2 separate regions of the Homo sapiens genome follow, and region 2 is linked to region 1. Evidence: fine-mapped expression QTL. A gene starts in region 1. The other region holds a variant in brackets. All regions are shown on one strand. Distances are from middle to middle.

What was found. PIP is the estimated chance that this variant, and not a neighbour inherited with it, causes the effect.
Region 2: its variant is fine-mapped to the expression of MAPK3 in whole blood (TOPMed, PIP above 0.99).

The regions. Positions count from the first base shown.
Region 1 is chr16:30,121,589-30,124,494 of GRCh38, forward strand. It overlaps MAPK3 (mitogen-activated protein kinase 3), which reads right to left and starts at 1,632. Exons shown (of 9, transcript NM_002746.3): 1 at 1,452-1,632; 2 at 236-418. The coding sequence starts at 1,621. RefSeq lists a silencer at 1,624-1,993.
Region 2 is chr16:30,141,979-30,144,884 of GRCh38, forward strand. No RefSeq gene overlaps it. Among named protein-coding and RNA genes, the nearest start is that of MAPK3, 20 kb to the left of the region's middle. The variant A/C (reference allele first, on the strand shown) is at 1,247.

The DNA of each region.
Region 1 (2,906 bases):
CACAGAGCAGAGAACCCACTTGCTCGAGGCCATACTGCCTGGGCCGCTGCAGGCCTGGGTTCATCAGAGGTCTCCAAGTCCTGTTACACTGTGGCTTCCCCTCTGCAGGAAAGTTTATTTTACTGGGTTTGTTTTGGAGGGTGGTGGGTAAGATGGAAACAGAAACCAAGCAACGGGTCCCCAGCCCAGCTGCGAGGCCGTGCCTGACCAGCCGACTGGCCAAGGTGAAGGATACACATCTCTCATGGCTTCCAGGGTGGACGCCCGCAGAATGTCTCGGATGCCGATGACATTCTCATGGCGGAAGCGCAGCAGGATCTGGATCTCCCGGAGCGTGCGCTGGCAGTAGGTCTGATGTTCGAAGGGGCTGATCTTCTTGATGGCCACGCGAGTCTTGCGCACGTGGTCATAGGCCGAGCTGAGGGGACCGGAGAGAGGCTGCTGCTGTGGCCTTACAAAGGGGGAGTCCGGGCCTGGTGGCCCCACCCAGGCCTTGGCAGGGAGGGGAGAGAGCAGGAGCTGGCTCTGGTCAAATCATAAACAATGCTGGTTCCTTCCTGCTGTGGAGGCCTGGGATCTCCAGAGAGAAAGCTGGGGACCAGCCAGGCGGCCCTTCGGTGACTTTACAAACAGAGGAAGAGACTGACCGCTCACTGACTTCCCCTCTCCTCAATCCCCTTCCATTCTACTGGCCCTGAACCCTTCGCCCCCATTCCCAGGAAAGGCTCCTTAACCCAAGACAGGTCCGGGGGTGCAGATGCTGGGGACACACCATGGGGCAAATACTGGGAAGGTGGCAGCCAGGGGAGGGGCAGGAGAGAATGGACAGGGCAGGGGAGGGTCCCAGGGTGAGGGATCCGGGCAGCGGGGCTGTCCCAGAGGGATAGAGGCCCAGAGCACACGGTGGGGCCGGGGGCACTCACAGACCCCTCCCAAAACATGCAGGTGGCACTCCTGGCCGCCTCATCTCTCTCTGGGCCCCTGGGGTGGTGGGGCCAAAGCCCTGCCCCACCCTGATCTCGGCTCTTCTCCCCCAGGCTCCCTGGCACTGCCTCACAGGGGGAATCCAAGACACCCTTTCCCCCAAAACGGGCCCTCCACTGCCTCTTCACTAAGGATGTCGCCTCCCCGAGAGTACTCATCCTCTGGGCCTCGCCCCGTGTCACTAGGGTCCCCGCGGGCCCCCACATGCACTCGGATGCCCCTCCCATCATTACAGAAGGGTGGACTCAAAGCCTCCAAGCCTGCTCCCCTGAGGACGTAGGCAGCGCCCCCTCCCCCAGAAAGCACTCAGGGGCCCCCTCCCTGGGACGCTCCCGATCATCCCGAGTCTCCTGCCTCCTCGGGACGCTCCGCGTCTCCACGTCCCGGAAAGCGCTCGGCGCCTCCTCCTCCTCTCCCGCGAAGCCCCCTCCCCTGAGGGCACCCCCTCCCCCGGAACGCCCCCTCACCTGACCATGCCGTACGCGCCCTCGCCGATGTACTGCAACTGCGTGTAGCGCGGGCCCACGTCGAACGGCTGCCCCTTCACCATCTCCACCTCCCCCGGGACCCCCGGGCCGACCCCCTCGGTTCTACGGGGCTCCCCGCCCCCGCCCCCCTGAGCCGCCGCCGCCGCCATCTCCACTCCTCCCCTCCCACCGCCCTCCTCCCCACGGCGGCCCCGCCCGAGGCCCCGCCCCTTCCCGCCTGCCTGTCACCCGCAGGGCCGCGCGCGCCAGGCCCCGCCCTTGCCCCGGCCCCGCGTGGGCCTGGAGCTGTCACGTGACCCGCCCCGCGCGCGCCCGCCCTTCTTGCCCCAGGTTCGGGGGCCATGGGTCCCTGCGGGCTCCGCGGCCTCCAGGTCACCGGGAGGTTCGGCAGCGCCGCCTCGGAGACTGTCCTCACCCTCCCCTCGATGGCGAAGCGGCCAGGGCGTGACCTACCAGAGCCACCCAGCCAATGTATGCGGCAGCCCACCAGAACCTGGGCCCGGGATCACCCTAGGTTAAAAATAATGTTCTAATAAATGGATCAAATTTTACAGATGGAGAATCTGAGAGTTAGGTTTACTAACTTGGGTAAGGTCACTAGTAGTGACAGCTGAGACTCAAAATGGTGTCTTCTGACACAGAGACTCTTTCTAATTCCATGCCTCTCAGAGTCCTAGACTGTTTTTATTTTATTATAGAGACAGGGTCTCTCTCTGTCGTCCAGGCTGGAGTGTAGTGGTGCAATAATTGCTCACTGCAGCCTCAACCTCCCTGGGGTCAAGTGATCCTCCCACCTCAGCCTCCCAAAGAGCTGGGACTACGAGTGCGCGCCACCACGCCCTGCTAATTAAAAAAAAAAATTGGGGGGCTGGGCACGGTGGCTCACGCCTGTAATCCCAGCACTTTGGGAGGCCGAGGTGGGCAGATCACCTGAGTTTGAGACCAGCCTGACCAACATGGTGAAACCCCGTCTCTACTAAAAATACAAAAATTAGCTGGGCATGGTGGCACGTGCCTGTAATCCAAGCTACTTGGGAGACTGAGGCAGGAGAATCGCTTGAACCCGAGAGGAGGAGGTTGCAGTGAGCTGAGATTGCACCACTTCACTCCAGCCTGGGCGACAGAGCAACACTCCGTCTCAAAAACAAAAAACAAAAAGAAGAAGAGAAAAAGTAGGGTTGCAGAAGGTAGGGACTGAAGAAAGGCATGAAGGAGAAGGATCGGGGTGAGCTGAGGCATAAAGGCAGAAGCATAACTTGTCCAGCATGGCTGCAGTAAAAAAATGATGAGGTTTCAGCCTGGAGAGGTAGGTTGGGGCCAGATTAGGAAGGCTCTGGATTCTGGCAAGGAGTTTGGATGTTACTCAGTAAGCAGTAAAAACCCTAGAGGGACTTTTGCCAGATCATTTTGCAACTGCGGGAGAATATAGTGACT
Region 2 (2,906 bases), 20 kb after region 1:
GGCAACCATCACTCTACTTTCTATCTCTATGACTCTGACTCCAGGTACCTCACATAAGTGGAATCATGCAGTATATGTCTTTTGGGGACAGGGTTATTTCACATAGTATAATGTCCTCAAAGTTCAGCCATGTTGTAGCATGTATCAAAATTTCCTATTTTAAAAAAAATTCTGAATAATATTCCACTGTATGTAGGTAGCACAGTTTGTTTATCCATTCACCCTTTCAGCCTCTGTCTTTATTATTATTATTATTATTTTGAGACAGTCTTGCTCTGTTGCCCAGACTGGAATGCAATGGCGAGATCTCAGCTCACTGCAACCTCCGCCTCCCGGGTTCCAGTGATTCTCCTGCCTTTGCCTCCTGAGTAGCTGGGATTACAGGTGCCCGCCACCATATGCCTGGCTAATTTTTGTATATTTAGTAGAGACGGGGTTTCACCATGTTGACCAGGCTGGTCTCGAACTCCTGACCTCATGACCCGCCCGCCTCGGCCTCCCAAAGTGCTGGGATTACAGGTGTGAGCCACCGCTCCCGAACCTGTCTTCTATATTGGATGCCTTCCTCAAACGTGGTGAATCTTGGGGGTCTGTGCATACTAAAGCTGGAGCTATTAAAAGCCTTTTAAAAGTTCCCCAGGCTGAGGGCACAGTGGCTCATGCCTGCAATCCCAGCACTTTGGGAGGCCAAGACAGGTGGATCTCTTGAGTCCAGGAGTTCAAGACCAGCCTGGGTAACATAACAAGACCTCATCGCTACAAAAAATAAAAAAATAAAGCTGACCATGGTGGCTCACGCCTGTAATCTCAGCACTTTGGGAGGCCAAGGCGGGCGGGTCATGAGGTCAGGAGTTCGAGATCTGTCTGGTCAACATGGTGAAACCCCATCTCCATTAAAAATACAAAAATTAGCCAGGCGTGGTGGTGGATGCCTGTAATCCCAACTACTCAGGAGGCTGAGGCAAGAGAATCACTTGAACAGGGAGGCAGAGGTTGCAGTGAGCTGAGATCGTGCCTCTGCACTTCAGCCGGGGCGACAGAGTAAGTCTCCATCTCAAAAAAAAATAAGAAAAAAAATAAATCAGGCACGGTGGTGCACACTTGTAGTCCCAGATACCAGGAAGGCTGAGGTGGGAGGACGATCGAGCCCACGAGTTTGAGGTTGCAGTGAGCTGTAATTGTGCTACTGCACTGCAGCCTGGGTGACAGAGTGAGACCCAATCTCAAAAACAAACAAACAAACAAA[A/C]AAAAAACCTCTCTCCACTGTGTGGCACTGTGTGCTAGGGGGTGACCTTGCTGGTGGCTTCCCAGGGAGCTCCTGATGTCAGTGTCTTCAGGACTTTCCTCTTGGCTTGATCACAGTCCCTTCAGAAGATTCTTCCAATTCCTGCCTGAAGGTGCCAATTTCTATGTCTTTTGTGGCTTCTGCAAAGAAAACCTAGCAATTTCTCATTTTTTCCAATGCCAGCTCGATTCCACTTCCTTGGTTCTAGTAAATTGGTTACCATGAGTCCCTCTATTAGTACCTGGCTTAAACATTTTTGTTCGTATTGTCTTCTTTCCTATTCTTACTCTTCCTGTGGGTGTGTGGCATTAGAAAGATTCTCTTACTGCCATTTTATTATGTTTGGGGCAAGAACAGAAGTAAATACATGTGTTTAGTCTACTATCTTTAACCTGATGCCTTTTAACTTTTTTTTTTTTTTGAGGTGGAGTTTTACTCTTGTCACCTAGGCTGGAGTGCAATGGTGTGATCTTGGCTCACTGCAACCTCTGCCTCCTGGGTTCAAGCGATTCTCCTGCCTCAGCCTCCCGAGTAGCTGGGGTTACAGGCGCCTGCCACCATGCCTGGCTAATTTTTTTTTTTTTTTTAGTAGAGACAGGGTTTCACCATGTTGGCCAGGCTGGTCTTGAACTCCTGGCCTCAGGTGATTTGCCCGCCTCGGCCTCCCAAGGTGCTGGGATTATAAGCGTGAGCCACTGTGCCTGGCCCCTTCTAACTTTTTAAAAGTAAACCTTGTCTTGGTTAGGCATGGTGGCTCATGTCTGTAATCACAAAATTTTGGGAGGCTAAGGCAGGAGGATTGCTTGAGGCCAGGAGTTAGAGACCAGCCTGGGCAACAGAGTGAGACTGTCTCTACATAAAATTTAAAAAAATAGCCAGGTGTGGTGGTACATGCCTATAGTCCCAGTGCTTTGGGAGGCCAAGGCAGGAGGATCACTTGAACCTAGGAATTCAAGGCCACAGTGAGCTGTGATTGCACCACTGCATTCCAGCCTGGGTAACAGAGCAAGACCCTGTCTTGAAGGAAAAAAAAAGAGTTGTCATATTCTTACCACATCATTATCCACATTATCCACAAAGCAAAGATATGGAATCAACCTAAGTATCTATCAATGGAGGAGTGGATAAATCAACTATGGTATGTATACAGAATGGAATACTATTTGACTATAAAACAGAATTAGGCTGGGCATGATGGCCCACACCTGTAATCCTAGCACATTGGGAGGCGAACACAGGTGGATTGCTTCAGCCCAGGAGTTCGAGACCAGCATGGCCAACATGGAGAAACCCCACCTCTACTGGAAAAAAAAAAAAATTAGCCAGGCGTGGTGGCAGGTGCCTATAATCCCTGCTACTTCAGAGACTGAGGCAAGAGAATTGCTTGAACCTGGGAAGCAGAGGTTGCACTGAGCCAAGATCACTGCACTCCAGCCTGGGCCACAGAGCAACACTCAGTCTCAAAAAAAAAAAAAAAAGTTTTAATATCTGATAGCAGAGTAGGGTGATTATAGTTGGCTGCAATGAATTGTATATTTCAAAGTAACTAGAAGAGAACTTGAATTACTCCCAACCCATAGGAATGAGAAATACTCAAGGTGATGAGTACCCCAGATACCCT